Homo sapiens: one gene and its partners. The protein of the gene in region 3 interacts with the protein of the main gene of each other region in a pairwise test. Each region holds a gene or a part of one and is shown on either strand. Other genes may lie near its edges. The genes, in order: USP25, SMAD5, SNRNP70, OBI1, GTPBP2, CEP63 and SRRM4.

The links.
Region 1: the proteins of SNRNP70 (region 3) and USP25 interact in a two-hybrid assay, tested with the Homo sapiens proteins (one large-scale study listed by BioGRID and IntAct).
Region 2: the proteins of SNRNP70 (region 3) and SMAD5 interact in a two-hybrid assay, tested with the Homo sapiens proteins (one large-scale study listed by BioGRID and IntAct).
Region 4: the proteins of SNRNP70 (region 3) and OBI1 interact in a two-hybrid assay, tested with the Homo sapiens proteins (one large-scale study listed by IntAct).
Region 5: the proteins of SNRNP70 (region 3) and GTPBP2 interact in binary tests that used the Homo sapiens proteins (3 or more experiments, as listed by UniProt).
Region 6: the proteins of SNRNP70 (region 3) and CEP63 interact in binary tests that used the Homo sapiens proteins (3 or more experiments, as listed by UniProt).
Region 7: the proteins of SNRNP70 (region 3) and SRRM4 interact in binary tests that used the Homo sapiens proteins (3 or more experiments, as listed by UniProt).

The regions. Positions count from the first base shown.
Region 1 is NC_000021.9:15,834,482-15,837,981, reverse strand, and holds part of USP25 (ubiquitin carboxyl-terminal hydrolase 25), read right to left. Parts: intron 1-3,500. UniProt on the Homo sapiens protein: Deubiquitinating enzyme that hydrolyzes ubiquitin moieties conjugated to substrates and thus, functions in various biological processes including inflammation and immune response.
Region 2 is NC_000005.10:136,153,345-136,156,844, reverse strand, and holds part of SMAD5 (mothers against decapentaplegic homolog 5), read right to left. Parts: intron 3,254-3,500; 5' UTR 3,085-3,253; coding exon 2,682-3,084; intron 1-2,681. UniProt on the Homo sapiens protein: Transcriptional regulator that plays a role in various cellular processes including embryonic development, cell differentiation, angiogenesis and tissue homeostasis.
Region 3 is NC_000019.10:49,088,451-49,091,950, reverse strand, and holds part of SNRNP70 (U1 small nuclear ribonucleoprotein 70 kDa), read right to left. Parts: intron 1,661-3,500; coding exon 1,598-1,660; intron 1,486-1,597; coding exon 1,431-1,485; intron 1-1,430. UniProt on the Homo sapiens protein: Component of the spliceosomal U1 snRNP, which is essential for recognition of the pre-mRNA 5' splice-site and the subsequent assembly of the spliceosome. SNRNP70 binds to the loop I region of U1-snRNA.
Region 4 is NC_000013.11:78,617,656-78,621,155, forward strand, and holds part of OBI1 (ORC ubiquitin ligase 1), read right to left. Parts: intron 1-3,500. UniProt on the Homo sapiens protein: E3 ubiquitin ligase essential for DNA replication origin activation during S phase.
Region 5 is NC_000006.12:43,623,130-43,626,264, forward strand, and holds part of GTPBP2 (GTP-binding protein 2), read right to left. Parts: coding exon 3,097-3,135; intron 2,736-3,096; coding exon 2,627-2,735; intron 2,432-2,626; coding exon 2,234-2,431; intron 1,934-2,233; coding exon 1,759-1,933; intron 1,601-1,758; coding exon 1,381-1,600; intron 940-1,380; coding exon 804-939; intron 667-803; coding exon 608-666; intron 1-607.
Region 6 is NC_000003.12:134,531,057-134,534,556, reverse strand, and holds part of CEP63 (centrosomal protein of 63 kDa), read right to left. Parts: intron 2,713-3,500; coding exon 2,617-2,712; intron 1,798-2,616; exon of another isoform or gene 1,780-1,797; coding exon 1,657-1,779; intron 1-1,656. UniProt on the Homo sapiens protein: Required for normal spindle assembly.
Region 7 is NC_000012.12:118,988,041-118,991,540, reverse strand, and holds part of SRRM4 (serine/arginine repetitive matrix protein 4), read right to left. Parts: intron 1-3,500. UniProt on the Homo sapiens protein: Splicing factor specifically required for neural cell differentiation.

The DNA of each region.
Region 1 (3,500 bases), on a different chromosome or scaffold from region 3:
CCTGGGCAACAAAGTGAAACTGTCTCAGAAAAAAAAAAAAGAATATCACCTAGTTCCTGCTTTCAAGGAATCTGAGAACACTGACGATACTGTTTATTCTACCAGGTCTTACTCTCAGGATCCAACCGTACTCTCCTGGAACATCAGCTTATTTTTAACTTGTAGACAGTGTAGAGAAGTTCCAGAGCCAACTCTGCCTGCTTCCTCTAGAGAAATTTATAAAACCTTACGCAATACACTTCATTCCAATCTTCACTAGTGTTTCCTTATTTTTTAAAGAAATCTGGGTGTGCTATATTGTAAGGACTTCAGATACTTCTTGGATAAGACAAGAGTAATATAAGTAAAATAGTAACTCGGACAACGCTCTTCTCTCCAGCATAATTTCTGTTTTATAAATACAGCCTAGAGCCATGCTGCTTAACCTCAGAATTATCTGAAGATCTCTTTAAGATAGCACTGTATCAGATCCTTTCTCCAGAGATTCTGACTCCAGTGTCTCTTAAGTGGCCTTAGGTAGGGTGTGCTGTTCACACTCAGAAAAAAAAACCCTACTCACTCTGATCCCCACACTGACAGCAAAGGATGGCTGGCTGAAAATCTCAACAACAGTATTCAGGTAAGTTTGCTCCCCTACTCACTCTGATCCACACACTGACAGCAAAGGATGGCTGGCTGAAAATCTCAACAACAGTATTCAGGTAAGTTTGCTCCCCTACTCACTCTGATCCACACACTGACAGCAAAGGATGGCTGGCTGAAAATCTCAACAACAGTATTCAGGTAAGTTTGCTCCCCTACTCACTCTGATCCACACACTGACAGCAAAGGATGGCTGGCTGAAAATCTCAACAACAGTATGCAGGTAAGTTTGCTCCCCTACTCACTCTGATCCACACACTGACAGCAAAGGATGGCTGGCTGAAAATCTCAACAACAGTATTCAGGTAAGTTTGCTCCCCTACTCACTCTGATCCACACACTGACAGCAAAGGATGGCTGGCTGAAAATCTCAACAACAGTATTCAGGTAAGTTTGCTCCCCTACTCACTCTGTTCCCTACACTGACAGCAAAGGATGGCTGGCTGAAAATCTCAACAACAGTATTCAGGTAAGTTTGCTCCCCTACTCATTCTGATCCACACACTGACAGCAAAGGATGGCTGGCTGAAAATCTCAACAACAGTATTCAGGTAAGTTTGCTCCCCTACTCACTCTGATCCACACACTGACAGCAAAGAATGGCTGGCTGAAAATCTCAACAACAGTATTCAGGTAAGTTTGCTCCCCTACTCATTCTGATCCCCACACTGACAGCAAAGAATGGCTGGCTGAAAATCTCAACAACAGTATTCAGGTAAGTTTGCTCCCCTACTCATTCTGATCCCCACACTGACAGCAAAGAATGGCTGGCTGAAAATCTCAACAACAGTATTCAGGTAAGTTTGCTCCCCTACTCATTCTGATCCCCACACTGACAGCAAAGAATGGCTGGCTGAAAATCTCAACAAAAGTATTCAGGTAAGTTTGCCTTTGCAGTAAGCAGATCTAGGGAAGCAGCATGAAATGAACCAAAAAATACTTTCCCATCATTTATTATCTCAGTAGGGAACGAATGGTGCTGGTGAACTGATACGCATGAATTTCTCGATCACATTTTAGCAGAAGAGGAACAAATACTAATTTGATTAATATAATATGAATTAGTACTCTTAATTGGAATATCACTCAGTAGAAATTGAATTTTATGAGGTCTTATGTTTCAGCTTTAACGAGAAGATTTTGCAGGGAGGAAAAAAATCATTCTGTTGGATTTTATGAACAAGATTTCCTTTTATTATTTCCACTAGTCACTGGTAATACTAGTGAACACCTGAGAGATTAAAATACAGATTTGCTTTGAGATCCTGGAAGTATTATACCAAATTAAATTACTTACTTTGAAAACCATGAGAAGAATCAGAAGAGGATGGCATGGACATTAAAATAAAATTTCCCTATTAATAATAGGGAATAAATGGTTCTAATGAAACATTAGTCTTATTCAATTATGATATGTGAAACTATCCTGCAACAGAGAACAAATTTCTTAATATAATCTCAAAGATAACAGTAATAGAAACCAATCTTTTAAACAACAATCTCACTCTGTAAATTTATGGACTTGGCATGTTCTACTTCTACTAATTCAAACCAAGTGCATATTTCCGTCAAGTCTATGGAGGATACAATGTTTCCTACAGAAGTAGTATTACCACTGCTTTCTAAATAACCCACGCTGAAAGGTAACTATAAAAGTTATCTAGGAATAGGAATTGACCATTTCCATCTCTTCATCTTTTATTCTGGTTCCTCCCAGAAATATATCAACATTCTAAGATTATTTTGCATGGTAAAAACAGACATGAAAATATATGTCCAATACCTAGTACTGCATTTTTTAAAAATTACAAAACACCATGTAAAGTGTATGGTCAGATGTATTGATCATGAAAATGGATGCAGTTATGCACACATGGTCTTTTCACAGAGAAAGAAAAAAGATGACAAATGTAAAATGAGGATGGGGCAAGGCTAGTCCTTAATAGATAGGAATATTAGTTGGAAATATGTATTCGTTTGACTAAGCAGAAATAAAATATGTTAACTCTGAAAATTTGGAGAGATGAGAAACAGACAGGATGAAGAGGAGGAGGATATATAGAACTTAATATTTTGGTATCACAAAATATAGGTGAGCCAAGAATAAAACTGGAGCTTAACCAATGAATGGAGGATTCACCTGTGTCTGGGAGCTTAGGTACCACAACTGCTTATAGTACACTATGCAGCCCCTTCCTCCCACTAATAACAAGAATAGTCACATGTGAATGGAATAAGTAAATGTTAAGGGAACAATAACACAGTAGCTCCATCTTGGGGCAGGTTCTGAGGAGTGATTTGGAAAGAATATGTACAGAATGCAAAGCATGAAATCACAAAGGGACAGAAATGTTTTAAAAATGAAAGGAACTATAATATAGTTACTACACTGTGATTTGAGCTTAGATACCTCTTGACATCTACTAAAAACTACATTGTTGTGGACCCACATAGCTTCACCTGCTCTACGCGGTAGCCTTGTACACGTGGGGGAAAAGTGCAGCCCTACATAATGGTAGAGTTCACCAGCCACTATAATGGTGGTATTCTCCATAGCACTGTAGTATCCAAATGTTGCTGTGATACCATTATCTTTTTAAAAAATGCTGAATTATCTGCCTCTCAGGATCAAAATCAACGACAATTATTTGATCTACATGAAAATAAGTTAAGTATCTGGACAGATTTGTGCATGCCTGCGACAGTCACAATACTACATTGTAGCACTGTAAAACAATCTTCTATTGAAGTAATAATTCCTTCTAAAGTTCAAATGATAATGCTGAAGCCCAACCAGGTAATGCTGCAAGGAAACCTCTGTCTGCGAAAGATGAAATTAAACAAACAAAAGCTGGAAC
Region 2 (3,500 bases), on a different chromosome or scaffold from region 3:
AAATTTTCCGTTATTTAAAAGTATCAGAGCTATGCCCCAGTCTTTTCTATAGAATGAATCATAGCTGAGAAAAATGTATACAAAAAATAAGACATTTCTATTGGCTGGCTGACTACTAGTCACACTTTGGCTATAGGGGAATACATAAAATTCCTAGACTCCCTCCTAGCAAATAGCAAGCTTGGGAGTTTTTCAGCCTATACTTCTCTATTAAATCCTTTTATCTTCCTTTCTTCATCAGTTCCTTCAGCTATCAGCTTTCCTTGGACTCAGTAAGAAACTGAGAATCATATCATACCAACTGTCTAAAGACACTCTAAAGCTCTTAAGTTGAACTTTCACAGACAGCATAATCACTGCTATCTGCTATCCTTTCTACTAGTCTCCACATCCAATGTTATTTTCAGTCTTTTTACCACACATCTCCACGTGAAACCCAGATAGACTCTAAGGTAACCACTGTGATTCCCACCTCCAGGTATTCAAACCATTGGGTAATTCTCCCTGCTTGAGTATGAGTATGACCTATCACTTCCTTCTAACCAACAGAATATGGCAAAGGTGACAGCGTATGTATGATTACATTCCACAAGAATATAATGTCCTTCTTACCAGAAGACCCTCTCTTCCTTACTGGCTTTGAAGAAGCTGTCATGAATGTGAACTACCTATAAAGAAGGCTATGTGAAAGCAACTAAATCTGTCAACAATCACATGGGCTTGGAAGCAGATCCTTCCCTAATTGAGCTTCTGATAAGACCTTGGCCCTAACCAACACCTTGATTACAGCGCCTTGCAAAGGACCCAGCTAAATGTGACTGGACTCCTCACCCAAAGAAACTGTGAGGTAATAAACATGCATTGTGCTAAGCCACTAAGTTTGTGGCAATCTGTCATGCAGCAATAGATGACTAATGCACTCAGCTAGCAGCTCAGCTTATACCATTCATTATAAAAAAAATTTACTGAGCATCACCTACCAAGTGCCAGACAACAATATACTATTCTAAGCACTAAGGATAGAGTAATGAATGAAATAGAGGAAGACTCTGCTCATGTCAGTCAATAAACAAAATAAATATCTAATATAGAGTCAATTAGTGATGCGGATATTTGAGCAAGGACTGAATGGAATGAGAAAATGTGCCATGGAAAGATCCTGGGGGAGAATAAGTAGACAGCAAGAGTTAAAGCCTGGAAACAGGAGTATGGCAAGTCCAAGGAACAGAGAACTCTGAGGATAGGTCATACAGAGTCTTACAGAAATCTCTTTAAGTGTGACAGCCTTGAAAGTGTTTTCAGTAGGAACTGACATGATTTAGTATGTTTTTAAAAAATCATTCTGGCTGTTGTGTGGAAAACACAATGGGTTAAGGGGAAGAAGAGACGCAGAAAGACCAATTAGGACACTACTTAAGGTGAGTGATGATGATGATGTACTGTACTAAAGTAGTGATGTCACAAATGATGAGAGGTGACATATTTATTAAGACATATTTTGAAGGTGCAGCAAACAGCATTTGCTCATATTTTAAATATAGGATTTAAGTAAGAAGAATAAAAGATGACCTTGCAGTTTAGGGCATTAGCAATTACATGAATGCTGTTGCCATTCACTTCAATAGGGGAAACCAGAGAAAAAAAACTGCGCTTAGACATATTACATTTGGTATGTTTAATAAATAAATATTCAAGTGGAAATGTCAAGTAGGCAACTGGATACACAAATCTAAAACTCAAGGGAGAAGTTGACTTGAGTTCAAAATGTGAGCATCAGCTTATAGACAATCTTAAGACATGTGACAGCATGAAAGCACATAAAGAAATAATATAAATGGAGAAAAGGTCCATGGACTGACTCCTGTGAAAACAGGAGAATACGCCAGCAAAGAGGGGCAAGAACAGTCAGTGAGGTAGGAGAACCAGGATAGCATACTGTCTTAGGGGCCAAACACAGAAAAAGTTTTGAGTAGGATGGAAGGAGATCAACTGTATCAAATGCAGTTGAGCGGACAGTAAGATAAGACTCAAAAATGACCCCTTGACCTATAAAAAGGCAGTCACTAGTGATCTCGACAAGTTAAATGGTAGGAAAGAAAGACTAACTAGAGAAGTCACAAGAAAAAAATGAAACATAAAGATAATAAAAATGGAGAATCCTCTAAAAGGACCAGTGGAAACAGTGCAGTGATTGGGGTTGGGTTATGTGAATGAAGTGAAAAGCAGAATTTTTTTTTAAGTTTTATTTTAGGATGGGTAGTATCATGGCATGCTTGTATGCTATCAGAAATACTCTGGTAGAAAGGGAAAATATAATGCTGGAGAGAAGGATGATAACTGTAGGAACAAAGTTCTTCATTTGACAAAAAGGAATGGGATATAGTACACACTTGGAGCTTAGGCTTTAAATAAAACAGAGACAGGTCATCCACAGGAAAAGGCAGAGTAGATATATGGGTGCTTACAGTGAATAATGAATTAGAGTAAGCCACCTGAGAATTGTATCACCTACATATAAAAAGCTAAACTCAAAATCCAATAGCCCTTCCAAGATTAGAATATTTAAGATGGAAACACAAAGCTAATACAACCTTTTCATTACTAAATCTAGTTACATGCATATCAGGAAGAGAGGTTTTTTGTTTTTGTTTTTCCAAATTCTTCTCAGGAATAAGACCTACCTGGACTCTCCACTCTCTTATAGTGGTATGGGTTGATACAAACTTCTTTTTGCTTAGATCCAAAAGGAAATTCACAAATATCCAACGGCTTTAGCTCATGATGACTCTGCAAATCCGGCCAGCGCCAAACACGACAATATATAACATGGGGTAAGCCTTTTCTGTGAGAAACCTGCAGGCGTCCATCTAAAGATCTGGGAATAGTGACACATTTACTCGGCTGTCCTGGACTGCTCAAGGCTTTCTCCAGTTCCTCCATGGCACCCTTTTTCTTTTTTAGTTTCTTCACCAAAGCATCAACTGCCTTTTCTGCCCATTTCTCCTCCTCATCACCTTGTTTCCAGCCCAACAATCGCTTTACTGCTGGACTAGTAAAAGAAAACAAGCTGGCCATTGACGTCATTTGACACAAATCTTCGGAGACCTTCCTGTAACTCAAAGTCAGTGGCTACCGAAAGAACAGATCACAGGTGAAACGTCATACACAGGTCCTAAGCAGAAGTTCCAATTAAAAAGGGAGGAGTAACATTTATCTTCACAAGTGCCATATGCTTCTTTCATTGGGTCAAGTCCTGAAAGAGAAAGGGGGAAAGGATCCTAGTTTAAATCAATTCAATATATACAAATTTAAATTAATATAATCGAAAGGCATATTTTATTAAATAAGAACAGAAAAGCATTACAAAGTAAACAAAAAATTGATAAATTTTCTCCAAAAGTTCTGTGACCACTCGATTCCTTCCCCATAATATGAACAAGTAAGACACTGGCAATGTCAAATGATAACCAGAGGCAAAACCAGGTTGCTCTACCTCCTAT
Region 3 (3,500 bases):
TTAGAAAAGGTGTTAGAAACAAACTGCATGGCAAAAAATGAGGTCATGACCGGCACAGCTGAATGTCTATGTCCCAGAGAAAACACCCAAAGGAAACCAGGTTGGTGGCGAGGGAAAACCCCTGTGGTTTGGACACTGAGTCTGAGATGCCTCTGAGGCAGGACATCAAGACAGCGTTCCGACAGCCAATGTCCAAAGAGTGCACCGCCAGATGTCTCTGTCACGCTTCTGCGTAAGCACCGTGAGGAAATCCTGCACTCCAGGATTTGGAGGAAAGGGATTCATCAAAGTTCACAGGTATAGGAGGAAAACCTGTCTTCTCACTAGAGTCATGTTCTGAGAAGTGCGTCGTTTGATGATGATGTCGATATGCCAACATGAGATGGCACTTCCACGAGCCTAGACAGCATACCTAACACTCCTGGGCTAGAGGGTGCGTCCCACTGCTCCGAGGCCAAGCGTGTTACTACACCAAATACTACAGCAATCCTAACACAATAGTAAGTATTTGTGCATCTAAACGTTATCAAAGCATAGAAAGGGTACAGTAAATAGACGGTATAATCTTTTTTTTTTTTAAGACAGATTTTTGCTTGTTGCCCAGGCTGGGTTGCAGTGAGCCGACGCGATCCCGGCTCACTGCAACCTCCGCCTTCTGGGTTCAGGAGATTCTCCTGCCTCAGTCTCCCGAGTAGCTGGGATTACAGACGCTCGCCACCACGCCCAGCTAATTTTTGTACTTTTAGTAGAGACAGGATTTCACCACGCTGGCCAGGCTGGTCTCGAACTCCTGACCTCATGATCCGCCTGCCTCGGCCTCCCAAAGTACTGGGATTACAGCGTGAGCCACAGTGCCTGGCAAAATATGATATAATCTTATAGGATCACCATCACATCCACGGTCCCCTGCTGAGTGAAACACTGCTATGCTGCCTGTGACTGTACAGTTTTCACTTTCAGAATAAAGAGCCACTGGAGGTTGACATCTGACCCTCTTATGAGTTTGGTTAATGGCAACAACACACCTGTCTTGTACTCCAATTCCTCCTCTATGTGGAGGGGATGGAACATCCTCAGCCCAAGGGTTGGGGACCTAAGGTTAGAGCCAGGACAGACCACTATCCCACAACCCACCACTTCAGCCTGTGACACCCAGCTGGGTTGTGGGAGCCCCTTAACTGTCCTCCCATGCAGGAGGAGCCCAAGGTACCAGGGGTCTCCCTTCCTGCCAACTTTTACCCTATGTTCTGCTGCTGAAAAGCCTAAACCAAAAACAGTGCTTGTGAAGTGGCAGGGGCTAAACAAATGAACTAACAACCCTGTTCCCCACAACACAGGCCTTAGGGAGACAGCAGGGTCCTGGGTATGACCTGGGAAGAATACAGAGGGTTTGGGAGAGGAGAGAGCCAAATGGTGGATGAGAGACTTACACATTTTAAGCTCTGTCTCCACTTCTTGCTGTCGCCGCTCAATCTTTTCCCGTCTCTGTCAGGAGAAAGGGGAGGTGGAGAAGTGAATGCAGATAGAAGTGCCCTAGTGTCAAGGATCATCTGGAGACAGTGGTAAAACAGGGGGTCAGGAAGCAAAAATGACATACTTTCCTCTCCATGCGCTCCTCTCGGGTTTCAGCACGAGTTGGAGGAGGGGCATCTCGAGGGTCCTGGGAACAAGAAGAGAGGTGACAGGGTGGGAAGGACTGGGGGAAATGGCAAGGGACACTCACCAAGGAAATAAACAGGTTAACCCTCCCACCCCCACCCCCTACAAAAATAAACATCCACGCACACTTCCCCTGACACAGTGGAGGGAGGGGAGTGGCACAGATCAAAGCAAGGTCTGCAGCCACGCACAGTGGCTTCCACTTGTAATCGCAGCACTTTGGGATGATGACACAGGGAGAATGCTTGAGCCTAGGGGTTTCAGACCAGCCTGGGACAACACAGTGAAACACCATCTCCACAAAAAATTTAAAAATTAGCCAGGTGTAAAGGCCGGGTGCAGTGCACACGCCTGTAATCCCAGCACTTTGGGAGGCCGAGGCAGGCGGATCATGAGGTCAGGAGATCCGAGACCATCCTGACTAACATGGTGAAACCCCACCTCTACTAAAAATACAAAAAATTAGCCGGGCGTGGTGGTGGGCGCCTGTAGTCCCAGCTACTCGGGAGGCTGAGGCAGGAGAATGGCATGAACCCAGGAGGCGGAGGTTGCAGTGAGCCGAGATCGCACCACTGCACTCCAGCCTGCACAACAGAGCAAGATTCCGTCTCAAAAAAAAAAAAAAAAAAAAAAAATCCTGTCTCAAAAACTAAGCATGGTCCATGGACCAGTACTATCTAAACTGTTGCTGGACTGTGATAAGTACAGAAACCAGGACTAAGTGTTCAGGAACTTCTACAGTAATTTCACAATTTGATGTCCACTGACTCTTAATACAAATTTGGTCTTTTATTCTGTAGGTCTTTTTTTTTTCTGAGACGAAGTTGTGGTCTGTTGCCCAGGCTGGTGTGCAATGGCGCGATCTGGGCTCACTGCAACCTCCGCTTCCCAGGTTCAAGCGATTCTAAGCCCTGCTTTCCCCCCTGTGCCCGTCTCTCTAAAAGGAACCCAGCAACTGACTAGAATCGTTCAAGCGGTTCTCCTGCCTAAGCCTCCTGAGTGAGTACCTGGGATTACAGGCACACGACAGCATGTTGGCTAGTTTTTGCATTTTTAGTAGAGACAGGGTTTCACCATGTTGGCCTGGCTGGTCTTGAACTCCTGACTGTAGATCTTTCTTTAAAAAGTAATTCTATCATATTTATCAAAAGCAAACAGATTGGAAACAGTATCTGTCCTTCACCAAAGACAGTTTGAAAAGCACTGGTACAGGTGACATCTAGCTTTATAGTATTTAGGAAACACCCTGTCTTCCATATTTAGGAAAGACATTGCTTCTCACAGCTCCAAGTATCACTCACATTGAACAAAGTGCCAGAGGATGTGATGGGAGTGGAGTGATGGCAGGGCCCTGCTTATGAGTGCCAGTGAGGATGACCAGGCCTAAAGCAACATAAGCTGACAGAACAGGGCTCCAAAGCCCACAACTGCACACCCTCTGAGGGCCAAGGCAGCTCTTAAAGGTCTCATCAACCACACATTAAATAGGAACTGGCTGGTAGGGTGCAGTGGCTCATGCCTGTAATCCCAGCACTTTGGGAGGCCAAGGCAGACAGATCACAAGGTCAGGAGTTTGAGACCATCCTGACCAACATGGTGAAACCCCGTCTTTACAAAAAATACAAAAATTAGCCAGGCATGGTAGCGCGTGCCTGTAATCCCAGCTACTCAGGAGGCTGAGGCAGGAGAATCCTTTGAACCCGGGAGGTGGAAGTTGCAGTGAGCCTAGATCACGCCACTGCACTCCAGCCTGGGCAACAGAGCGATACTCCATCTCAAAAAAAAAAAAAAAAGGTCGGGTGCGGTGGCTCACGTCTGTAATCCCAGCACTTTGGAAGGCC
Region 4 (3,500 bases), on a different chromosome or scaffold from region 3:
GGCCCTTTCAATTATAGCCACCCTTGATCTGAAGCTTTTCTGTGGCTTTTCAGAGCACTGGCCTTTAATTTATGTCAGCACTACTTATTTTTGGCATTTTACAGCTGTGTGGGACATCTATCTCATTTCTTTCAACTTTGAAATATGAAGTCAGTGCTTGTGATTCCAATATACTAGGCAAAAAAAAAAATTTTTTTGTACACTTTCTGAAAGAGAACATTTTGGAGAGTGACTGAAAAAGAATTCCCTTATTCACAAAAAGTCTACTCCTTTTACACCGGGATTATCTTGCTGTTATTTCCACCAAGAATGAGTACTGTGTTAAGCTCAGGAAACAATTTTTGAGTACCTAGTATAGGTTAGGTGGTATATTTGGGGCTGGGAACACAAAAGATAAAAAAGACTGTCTAGCTCCAAGGGACATAAAATATCTACCTTAAATTCAATCTTATCACCAAAAATAAATTCTATCTTTCAGGAAACTTATGAGCCAATAAATAACATAATCCCGTGAAAAATACCTTATCTCCTCCAAAATTCTTTTCAAAGCCTATTCTTAATCATCTTTTTGATGATTTATATATTGGCCCATTTCTAAGAATTAAGGGATTGTCTGTTTGGAGGAAGCTATGAGAAGGTGACTTTCAAAAATTATTTTTATCTTTGGGTTTATCTTTTTCTTCCTTTTTTCCCCTAATTTGAAAAATAATTACAATTAAGAACATGTATTTAGTATTGAAAAAAAAAACTACAAAAAAAGCAGAAGCCAATAGCAATTGCCCCTCTTAGAATCAACCACAACATGTTTTCAACTCCCACTTAATGCCCATCACCTCCTAAACCACTAGCCCAATTCATTCCCCATCTCAACCCCTACATAATCCCTGCACTCTTATCACTGAAGGAAAAAGCAGAGGCAAAGGTAAATATAGAATCATAAAATCTCAAGATTAGAAAGGGCTTTAAAAGACATGATTGCTGAATATTGATTTACTCACTGCAATTAACTGAACCCCCAGAGAGAGCACGCTCCCTTCAACTTCTAAAAAAACACAGCAAAAACCACAGGTATAACAAAAACAAAAGCAACTATAATAACAAGCCTCCCCATTTTAAAGACAAAGTTTACTACTGTATTTGGTTAAATGAATGATGGGAATTTTTCTTCTTTGTTAAAAATGTTTTGGCTTATAAATGTAGTACTTCACAGAGTTGTAGTTCTGCAAGAGAACTTTTAAAAAGTGGGCAAAGACCTTTCAGTACATTAAGTACAAATGTTTGTTAGTTCTTGATTGTAACTACTCTGGCATAATCAAATAACCCACATTTTTAAATGGAAAAACTGTAGTATGTTTATTTAATGCCAATAAGCAAAAGTGACAGCCTTACATTTGCTTATCAAGATAAATTTCTTCAAGTAAAATTTTTTATAATAAAGGTATCTCCTCAGATAAAAAAATCAAATGACTTAAAATCAAATAATGCTACTACATAGTAAGTCAGTTGCTACCAAAGGATATCTTTGGGAACTTAGAGGCCTACACACAGAAAGACTACTCAAAAATAAAGAATGCTTCCCAAAATATTACCAGCTTCTTGTTCCAGGGTTTTAGCTTGGAATTTCAAATATAGTATCATCTTAAGATACTGTATTTGCCTCTCTCTCTCTATATATTTTTTTTTTTTAGAAATTATGTTTTTAAAAGAAGTAACATATGGTTTGGAGTTGAAGTCAATGAGAGCCCTAAACATAATTTTTGTGTTATTTCAGAGAGAAGTAACAAAGGCCAGTAGCAGATCACATATGAGAGGCACAAGCAAGCAGAAGTCACTGATGGAGTTAGGCTGTTTTCTAAAAGGCCACTGCCCCCAATTTCCTTAAGTTTCCTTTCAATACTCTATAAATCTATAATACTTTCAGTGATCAGGCCCTTCTCCCATGCTAATAAGGGACCTGTGCTGGTTGGCAGACTGACAGAAATGTATACTAAAAGCCATGCAACTGATCAATTAATCAATTCATGTAATTTATTTGCTTTCTTTCTCCCACGTTAGAATAGAAGCTCAAGGAGAGCAGGTAGTTTGTCTTATATTCACTGCCAGATTCCTAGAACAATTCCTGGTATACGGCACTTGCCTGTTGTGTATTTCTTGAATAAAAGTCATTCTCTTACTTTAAGATACACTAGTGCCTTACATTGAGACAGGGTTGACACCACAGGATAAGCTAAAGGTCCTTGGCCTTCTTTTTACATGTTAAGTATTATGACAGTCACTGTATTACTAAAGTAAACATGTTTTGTTTACTACATTTGACTGTTTACTTTATTTCACTGACACCCAGGAAAGCAACAGAGACTGACATATGTACAGTACAGCCTTTTTTGCTACAGGCTTGACATTCTATACTGCTCCACCCCAAAAAACTTCACCTTAGTAAGACTGCAAATAGATGAGACTTTTGACATGTGTCAGGAAATTTTCAGCTTATCCAAGATAACTATATTAAATTTGGCAAAGGGCAATTTACCTTATTATAGAGAAATAACAATTAGGGATAAGTATCTGATGCTATACTTCCATAGAAGAAGGACATGAGCTTATTTATCTTTGGGTTTTAATACTTTTGTATTCACACTAATTCTAGATATTTGGAGTATACAACACTAAATGAAGCTATGCCAAGGCAAGCCGGAGGGATTTCTAATATCATTTACCATACTTCCTCCTTTTCTTGAGTAAATTTCAAAATGGAGTATTTTTATAAACATTCCATTAGAGACCAAAAGGCTTTGATTTTCAAAGTAGCAGTGATGGCCAAAGGCTTCATTGTGCCAGAAAAAACACTGCAGAGCAGTTTGGGAGCTACAATTGATATCGGAACTGTATTCTGCCAGAATCTAACAGAAGCTTAAAGGATTTTTCAGCTTGCAATATTAACTGATACATACATTCTGGATGAGAGAGAAAAGGATGCCAGTTCCCCTTGTCCAAATAGCTCTAAGAGATACAAGATCATTTCTGTCCCTAGTAAAAGAGAAATGGAAGTCCTATTGGTATGACCTTTGAGGTGGTATAACTAAACTAAAGAGCATCTCTAACAACAAAAAGTTCCTAAGACCATATTTTCTCATAGTCTATCACACAGAAAAACAGGACGTGTTTGAAGAAAACAAATGTGGTAAAAGAATACCACACCTGAGTACCAAAAAACTAATAAGCTCTAGTGCTACGCTACTATCCTTGAGCAATTCACTTTGCCTTTCTGGTTCTCAATGGCAATTCCAACAAAATGGGTAAATGCAGCAAGCCCAGTGGGTGGCCAAGACTGCCAAAATTCAGAAATGCCTTCTTGAGGAGGAACAAGGGGGACATTGGGGAAGTCAGTCCACTTGCCTCATCAAACTTTGACTTTATATGTTTCCCTCACTTGGTAGCTGAGGTAATGAAACAAAGCGAAAGCTATCTTTGGACCTGGACCAGCTTTTGTGGTGTGGCCT
Region 5 (3,135 bases), on a different chromosome or scaffold from region 3:
CCTGTAATCCTAGCACTTGGGGAGGCTGAGGCAGGTGGATCACTTGAGGTCAGGAATTCAAGACCAGCCTGGCCAATATGGTGACGACCCCATCTCTACTAAAAATACAAAAATTAGCCGGGCATGGTGGTAGGCGCCTGTAATTCCAGCTACTCAAGGCTGAGGCAGGAGAATTGCTGGAACCCAGGAGGCAGAGGTTGCAGTGAGCCAAGATCGCTCCACTGCAATCCAGCCTGGGCAACAGAGCGAGACTCTGTCTCAAAAAAAAGAAAGAAAGAAAGAAAGAAGAGTCTTAAGTGACGTCTCTCATTTCCCTGTGTGAGATGAAGTCAGTTGAATACACTCTAGTTTTCTTCCTGGAGCTCAAGACCCACACTTCTCTCTCAGGGGCCTGGAGATTCCCCAATAGGCAGCAATACTGTTTCTTCCCTCCAAAGCCAACAGACTACCGTTCTCCAGCTCTTCTGATAGTGAAAGCCTAATCTGCAAATAAGCATGTCCTTTAAATGGGTTCCGTTCAATTCCAGGGTCTCCTCCTTTGGGCCAGGATGTCTTTGAGTATATAGGTGAGGGCTGAGTGGGGAGGGTAGCAAGCAAGACAATTTACCTGGAAAGTGTTCCTCCAACAACAGTCCCCACCTCTGGTACTGTGTAGATTTCATCCACCTGAAGCCAAAGAAAACGCTATCAATGGCCTGCCAAGTAGGGCTGGTGGGTCCAAAATCTCTAAACAGACTCTGGGTTTGGTCTGAAGCAGCCCCTCCCTGTTTCCCAGCCTATTAGATGTTTGGGCAGTCAACTACCTGGAACTCCGTCAGCTGCTGCATGAGTTCCTCCTGCTCTTTGCTGTTGGTGAGTGGCGGCAGAATATTCAGAAAGACTTTGAGGAGGTCCAGACTCTCTCCAGACACACTGGACAATGTGAAGATGGGGGTGACACTGTAGAGGGAGGCATGGAATGGACAGATGAAGACAGTCCAAACAGGAGGCAGAGGCCAGAGCCCCATACATGGAAAGGTGAGCTTTGTTCTGGCTGGGGGCCCCTCTCTCCTGTCTGCAAATGGCTCAGGAACTCTGGGCCTTCTTGTGAGCCAGTCGAGCAATGTCACACAAAAAGCCCATCCGAGCCCAAGGGAAACAGCAAATGCCTGGTATAGCACTTCATCGCCATGGTCCCAGGCATCAGCAGTGCTCCAGGTTGGCTCGGGAGGAGGGTCAAGCCCTTTAGCAAGATGCCCCTCCACAATCCCAAGCTGAAACACCCGCAGAACTAAGCCAGAACTGGTCTGGCCCTGGAGAAGTAGGATATCATGCTTCTGGGCCCTGGGCTCTGTGGCAGCCTTCCTAGTGGATCAGGGCTTTAGAGTAAGGTGGGCTTACTTGGGTGACTGAGCAAACTGCTGGGCAGCAGTGACGGCATCATCCTCAGAGGTGACCAGCATGGGGACCTTGTGGCAGCCAGGCTGCTTGAGGACCCGCTCCAGCTGGCGTACTGTCCTCTCCACTGTGGTCTTGGCACATAGGTCGATCTTGCTGACCACGATGAAGAAGGGCACTTTCAGGGCCAGGGCCAGCCCCAGATGTTCCCTTGTGGTGCCAGCTGCCTCATAAGGACAGCAAGCAGCAGGAGAGAAGAGTGAGAATGCAGGAGGGAGGAGAGGGAAGAAGAGGAGCATTGGTCTGTCTCCAAGATTTGAGGCCCAGGGTAGGAGAGTCAGCACCCCCCTTCAGCCCTGTCCCTGCCCTAATGCCTCGTACCAATCCCAGTGTTGGCACTGACGAGGAGCAGGGCGCAGTCGGGGCAGTATGATGTGAGGCCAAAGATGGTGGTGTGTAGGTACTTATGGTGGCCTGCCAGGTCGATGAAGGTGATCATCTTGGAGCTGCTCTCACAGATCTCTTCTGCTGTCCGTGAGTCGCTGTAATTCACCACCTGGCCCAGGGCCCAGGGCCCTCAGTGCCTCCTGCCAGCCCTTCCAACCCCTTCAGAGTTGCCAGGACCTAAACCATTCCCTGGGTGACCCTGCCTCTTAATCTTGACCCCATTTTTTATTTAATTTAGTTGATTCCCCATTGATTTCCTAAGAGGGGCAGAGCTTGTTCACAGTCCCCTCAGGGCATTCATCTATACTATTTCAAAAAGTCTCCACACTCTACCCCCATCCTATGTCCTTCACTACTACCATCCCATCCTCAGAGTCTGGCCCCATTGGGTCCCATTGATCCCATGCACCTCTCCCTTGCTGTTAAAGCCCAGGATCTCGAAGCTGATGCTGGAGGTTCGGCCAGACTGAATCTCATGCAGGTGGCGGAAAAGGTTGAGCCGAGCCCGGCCCCGCCCATTGTCCAGCTCTCCCTGGGTCAGGACTCCAAGCAGAGTTGACTTCCCAGAGTCCACATTCCCCAGGACGGCCACACGGAGGTCTAGGAACTGTGGATGAATTGCCAGAGATAAGAACTCCAATCTCTCACCCCTCTAACTGAAGACTGGGTCAAGGGCAGTGACGCTCCCTAGGGAGCAAGTGATGAACTGGAAGCCCCCAGGATCCCAGGCCAGGAGACAGCCTGCCACCACAGGGCCCTTCCACAGTGTGGACATGAGAGACAGGGATGGGTGTGTGCTCACCTGTTGGTTGTCAGGGACCTTTCGTACTAGCACCTCGGTGATCTTCCGGGGCATGTCGCTATCATAATCCACTTCTCGCTCTCGAAGAACGGTTATGTCTGCCCCAACCCTGTCACAGCAAGGCCACAGCTGCCATATCTCACCTGTCCTTCTCCTATTCCAGGCTCGCTCTGGACCTACAGACTTCCTGCACCTCCCACAGAGCTCCCAATACCTTAGTGCACTTCCTACCACCCTCCAATCTATTCCTCATTCACAGTTCCCTTTAAAACAAATATACATATCTTAATTCAAGGAGCAAAACAGCCTAGGTCCAGTGAGGAGGGGACCAAAACACTAACCCTCCCCACTTCAGCCCTTTGTCAAGAGAAGGAAAGTCCCACCTTGGCCCCTCAGGCCCTAGGTAACTGGGTATGCATGGGTCCCCCCAAGTCAGGTAAAGGAGAACTGGTGGGGAAGGGGAAGCATACTTCTCTGCCATCCGGTGCAGGGTCTTGAGCGAAGCTCGC
Region 6 (3,500 bases), on a different chromosome or scaffold from region 3:
AGAATTTAAAAGCTGGCTAAGGACCGATAAGTGAGAACACCAAGTAGATAATGGAGCAGTAAAAAGGTGGCAGAATTTAATCATTTTAAGGGATGGTTAATGATTACTGAGAGTCAAAGGACTAGAGAGAGTTAGCTGAAAAGATAGGGATTGGTAGTCTGATAATTGAATGCTTGAAAATGAGATTCTAGAGGGGTGGCATATATTGGTAATGACAAGAGCTAAGGAATGGCAGTGGGAATAAGTAGATGAGACACAAAGATAATCAAACTATCTATGGAGGAAAGAAAGCCAAGAAACTGTAAGGTCAGAGTATTATAAGCATCATCTCTCCAGATCCTAAGATCCTCAAAGTTATGATAAGAGTAATGTCAGAGAGAATTGACAGTGAGCTGGGTGCTGAAATCAATGAGCCAAGGAAATAACCCAGAGGTCAGACGATGACTATTTTGGTTGTTATGTTCATTGGCTGGCAGTATAGGCTGGTAACATGAAAATCAAAGATGGGGTTTTTGAGGTAGAAAGAAAAGAGAATAGTCAGGAAGTGGCAATGAGAAGCAAGAAGGATATAGGGTTTGGGGGGAAAAGGTATTGCCGAAAAGGGTGGAAGGGAAGCAGTAGCTGCAGTCTTCTGATTCTAAGCTCTTCAAATGTAAAAAAATATTGAGATATAAAGGAATATTAAACACAGAAATTATAATTTTAAGTAATAATAATATACTGGCATTTGTGGGTGACAGGTCACCCAGAGTACAAACTTGTAAGTGATCACACAAAGATGTTGAACAATGTTTCTCAAATCAGAATAAGCTAGGGGAGCTGGATACAATGCAGATCCCTAGGTCCTATGCCATACTGCTGGATCAGCATTTCTGAGAGCCTAAAAGCACCCTGGGAATTCTTATGTCCAGTGAAGAACTAATGGCAAGGACAGACGAAGAGAATGACAGCCTTGTGCTCTTCCTTCATCTACTCTTGGTACTATTAGCTCACCAGCTCCCCTTAAGTTCTCAATATATACAATAATCATGGAGTTATTCAGTCTTAATAAAAACAAAGTCAGCAGAGAAGGAAGTGAATGCCTTACTACATCTAAATGGGAATTGAGAATAATCTGATACAGAGATTACTTTGTACGAAAAGTGCCATGTACTTTCCACATTTACTAAGCCCCCACTTTATTAGGTGCTTGAGATACAATGATATATAAGACAAGAACAATGTCCATAGAGGACTGCCTATAACTAGTGGTCATGTTTCCCAATTGGAGAGTTACTGGCATTTGAGGTACAATAATCCTTCCTGTGTGGAACACTCTTAGGCATGTTTAGTATCCCTGGTCCCTGTCCCCTAAATGCCAGTTTTATTAAGCTCAGTCATTTTGACAACCAAAAAAATATGTCTCCGTACATTTGCAAATGCTCCCTAAGGGTGGTACTGCCCTGTTGAGAATTACTGATGGCCAGTAACCCCGTTAACCCAGGGAACTAGATGATGATAGGATGTATGGTGGATCACCCTCTCACCTCTGAAATAGCTTAGTGGCAGTCCTTAAGATAGTAGAAAATTGGTTCCAGAAAATAGTGCCATTAGAAACCGCATTTTCCTACGTGAAGGCTGACAATCACTATGAACAAATTATTACTATGAACATACCTCTATTTTTGCAGTTAACCTCTCAATTTCAGACCGATCTTCCCTGTGATTTTTGGTATTTCCTCTGAATTCCCTCATTTGCTTTTTCTGAAGCTTTTCATAGCTTCTCTTCAGTATGCATAACTGTAGAAACAGTTATTTCTATATTTAAAGTTTAAGAATTTGTAAGAAGTAGTGGTGAGACAAATTGGTATTATGAAAACAAGAGCAGTGCTAACCAGTACTACTGAGAACATGTTAGATTTCCAAACTAAAACACAAAAGGAAACTAAAAATTAAATATGTAAAACAAACACTACTAAAGAAATATATTCAAAGAAAAAATTTTAAAAAAAATTTTAAACAAAAGTTTTGTATTACAATAGCCCTGCACTTAAAGACCCTACCACCCAGCCCCACAATAAAGCAGCAAATAAAAACTCTTTTTCTTTCCTCTAGGTCTGTGATTCTCAAGCCATGCTCTTGCAGGGCACTGATATTCAGGATGCAGGAGAAGAGTACTTTGCAATTAAATCAGAATAAAAGCAGTTTTTTCCAAATCTGAAGAATAAAATTGAGTTAATGGACAGAATTTTCTTACTTGTCTTATTTATCCCAAAATGTTTCTTAAATCTTTGGATCCTCCATTATTTATAATCTAGTAACTGATAAAAATTAAAATATTAAATGTAATTTTTGGTATCAAGTATTTCACAGTATTACATAAAAACAGCTCTATTTCTTTCAGGTACTCAACCAAGAAACATATTTTAGCATCTCTTCTAGGTAGTATCAAACCTACAGTTAGGCAAACCTCTTTACCTGGATTAAAGAACAGAGAAATGGATTCCCACTCCTGTATCTTTGATGGAGTATGTATTTCCCACTTTACAAAGTAGAAACTGGCTTTCATTAACAAAGTTCTCAAGGGTGAAAGAGAGAGAACTACACACACAACATTTAACAAAACTAAAATCTCACTTCTTCATGTAGTTTCTTCAACTCCTGCTTATATTCCATGGTCATCTCTTGCTTGATTTTTTCATGTTCTTCTACCTGCTGATGCAACATTCCAACCTAAAAGCAGAAAGGTGGTAGTATTTTTCACTATTAGCATTGAAATAACATCCCTGAGATATAAAAATAGAAAATAATCTCTGTATTTATTTGTAAATTCAAGTTCTCAAATGCATATATATGGTGATACCCCACTTCTTAGGAAGTCAAATACCTAGTTATTTAAGAATTCTTTACACTGCCAAAAAATAGTGAACAAACAGCTAGTTTTTAGAATTTCTAGGTTTAGATGAAGACTCTCTCTCTTTTTCTTTTTTTCTTTTTGAGATGGGAGTCTCACTCTCGCCCAGGCTGGAGTGCAGTGGTGCAATCTTGGCTCACTGCAACCTCTGCCTCCCAAGTTTAAACAATTGTCTGCCTCGGTCTCCCAAGTAGCTGGGATTACAGGCGCATGCCACCACACCTGGCGAATTTTTATATTTTTAGTAGAGACAGGGTTTCCCCATCTTGGCCAGGCTGGTCTTGAACTCCTGACCTCGTGATCCACCTGTCTCAGCCTCCCAAGGTGCTGGGATTACAGGCGTGAGCCATCGCGCCCGGCCGAAACTGTGTCTCTCTGTCTGATTATCCTACTCAACCCTTTTCATCAAAAAAACTCATGAAAATAAGAAATATAAAGTGTTGAGAGTCCTGGAAACCAACAATACTTCATAAAAAATCTAGAAGACCTTAGGAATAATTTCTCTACAATAAAGTACAGAATAGTAACGTCAGACAGGAAAACAAAAGGAGGTTTGTGCCTGCTTTACCATTCACCCAACTCCAGAGAAACGAGTTCCACCAACCAT
Region 7 (3,500 bases), on a different chromosome or scaffold from region 3:
AGTCCCTCTCCTCATGAGGCCTCAACCGTTAGGAGAGGTATGCTTTAGCCAATGATCGCCCAAATCCATATATAATTACAAATGTGTTGAAAACAGTGATAAGAAAGTAATGTCTGTAATGAGGGGTATGACTTAGTCTGCAGCATTCTGGAAGGATCCCCGAGGAAACAGCATTTCCTCTGAGCTCTGGAAAGTGGAGTAGGTATAAATCAGGCACCAGGGGAGAGGAAGAGCTTTCCTAGCAGCATGTGCAAAGGCTCCATGGCAGGAAGGAGCCTGGAAAATGTGAGTAACTAAAAGGAATAAGATGCAACTAAACAGAGGAAGTGAGAGGTGGTGTTTTAGAAATGGTCTCAGGGAGGTGGGCAGGAAGTGGACCATGAAGAGGCTAGAGGCCATGGCAGGGAGCTGGCTCTGTATACTTAAAAAAACATGGGTCCAGGCATGGTGGCTCACACCTGTAATCCCAGTACTTTGGAAGGCCGAGGAGGGTGGATCACCTGAGGTCAGGAGTTCAAGACCAGCCTGGCCAAAATGGTGAAACCCTGTCTCTACTAAAAAAATACAAAAATTAGCTGGGTGCGGGGTGGGTACTTGGGAGGCTTAGGCAGGAGAATTCCTTGAGCCTGGGAGGCAGAGGTTGCAGTGAGCTGAGTTCGCACCACTGCACTCCAGCCTGGGTGACAGAGCGAGACTCCATCTCAAAACAAAAACAAACCAAAAAAACACAAACAAGAGAAAGTGATAGAGGGCTTTAGATGGAGGGAGAGAGGGCTTACATGGTCTGATGTGCTTTTCAAAGAGGTTCTTCTGGGTCTATGTGGATAATGGATAAGAGGGGCAAGGAAAGAGGAAAGCAGTATTGCTGCAAGTGGTATGAGATGGGATTATAACAATGGCAGTTACTAAACTGATTGAACATAAAACAAGATGAGCAAAACAAAACAAAAACACCCCCAACCTTAAAACCCAAACCAGAATGACAGGAAGTCCAGCCAGGAGAGAAGAATATACTAGCAATCAGACAGACCTGAATTCATCTCCTGCTTTCATCACTTACACACCGTGTGATCATGGGCACACTGAATTAAGATGACATAGAGACAAAGCCGAACCAAATAGGACAATGCCGAACCCTGAAACAGTCATTAAGCAATTCACATCTACGTGTGTCTGTTCAAAACAAATAGTAAGAACCTCCGGACGCAAAGGTTTCTCATCTAGAGACTCCCCTGGTTGCTGGATTCCCAGGGCTTACCTCCCCTCTGTGATACCATTTTTTCCTCCTCTGCAAAGTGTCTTATCCTATAAACATGTTGGTTAAGAGCTCTGGGTTCTCATTCCAATTCTGACTCTTACCAGCCATGTGTCTGTGAGCAGATCATTTCTATTCTCAGAGCCTCTGTTTTCTCATCTGTAAAATAGGGTCTTGAAGACACCTCTCTTCTGGAATTATTATAAGTACAGAACTGGATAAGAGATGAAATGTGTTCAGCACAGGGCAAGGCACATAGTAACACAAGGCTCTTAGCACACACATTCCCACCACAAGTGAGCGTGCACACACACCATGAAGATGCACGCTTCAGGCCCAAATGGCACCTCTCTTTCTGCAGAAGTGGCAACTGTCTTCTAAATTCCTGCTCAGTTGCCTAAGCTTAACTTTTAACGAAGCCAGAGAACAGTGATCTGTTGGTATTTGTACTCAGCAAAGCTGTCCGACAGCGGCATCTAAGCTTTGGGAATCCAGCAACCAGAGGATTCTCCGGATGAGAAAGATTTGCGTCCAGAGGATCTTAATATTTGTTTTGAACAGACACACGTAGACATGAATTACTTAATGACTGTTTTAGGGTTCGGCATTGTTCCTGTATTTGGTTTGGCTTTGTCTCTATGACATCTTAATTCAGTGTTCTATTTCACAGAGCTCCGCACAGAGGCTGTAGCATATGGGAGCTCCCTCAGCAAAATTTCAAATGGAGTGGGGGGCTGGAAGGTGTGGGGGGACAGGTGCCGGGAGAGATACACAGAGGGAGAGAGACAGAAAGAGCAGACTGTAGCTTCAAGAGTGTGCAGTGGAGGGGGCTACTGGGTGCAAGGGATAGTCTAGGTTTGCATGCATGAATATGAGAGACCAAACCCTTGCACCGTGGGAACAAAATCTATCACTGCTATTTGGAAGTCTAAACAGCATCTTTAAAGTTTCCTGATGTGATTGTTCACAATCAAAGGGACTGTAAATTTCATGCTTGTCCATAACACATGGAGGGACCCAGCCAATCTTCTGATATTGCTGTTCAAAGTCATCACTGGCTGCATCAGAGTCAGGAAAGAGGAGTCAAACAGAAGCAGATCAGATCTGGAACTCTGCTTGAGAAGGCAAGAACCCTCCTGGGACCACCTCCTGCCCCCAGCCCAGGACCTAGGAATTTCCTGAACTGGCTTACAAGGCCCCACTTGATCTGTTTTCTGCCTGCATCCTGGGAATCATCTTCTGTCACTCTCCCATTCACTCACTCTGCTCTAGCCACACTGACCTCCTTGCTATTTCTCAAATACACCAAGCATCCTTCTACCTCAGGGCCTTTGCACTTGCTGTTCCCTCTGCCTCAAACACTTTTCTCTCACTTATCCTCACAGCTCACCTCTCCCTTCACTCAGGGATCATGCTGTCCAACAAAGCAGCTCATTCCCTCACCCTCTATTCCTTTCCTTGGCTTTATTGTTCTTTACAGAATGCATTACCACCAGCTCTCATTTATTTATTTGGTTCTTCATTTATTGTCTTTCTCCTCCACGGGAACAGGGAGTTCCTGTGTTCATTCACTGTTACGTTGAGTAGTGGTTCAATAAAAATGTTGAATGACTGAATAAATGAATGAAAGTACAACCTAATTTTTTTTTAGCCAACGTGCAGCTTCTTCCACTTTGTGTATTAATTCCCCTGTGATTAATTTTATCTTCCACATTTGCAGGCTCGCTATAATCCCCCCATCACTGGTGGTTGTTCATGGAATGCAGACTAGATTTCCTATTAGCTAGAGCTGGTCCATGAAGGACAAGAAGCCTAATAGCCCACGCCAGAGACTGCATCCTTGAGCTGGAAAATGTATATTATATGAGCAGCTCCCTTCCACGGCTCCCCTCCACTAGCGTTGACTATTCCCCCACAGTTAATGTTCCCCTCAGAGAGTTTAGCCTGCTTTCTCTCCTATTAAAAGAAATGGTATTTGAGACCCTGCTGGGGGCAAAGGTCTGATTTTCTCTGATCATTCCTTGTATTTGTAGATAACGTTGATGAAATAGAAGAATCATCCCCATTTTGCAGATCGGATAACTAAAAATAACTGTGTGACTATAAGCAAGGGACTCCATGCTTCATTAAGGGTCTCTCCCTTCGCTGTTTTTTTTTTACATTCCTCTGTCTCTATTTCTCCCTACATTATCATGCTTAAGACAATAATATGTTTTACAGTTTCAAATAGCTAGAAGAAAAATAC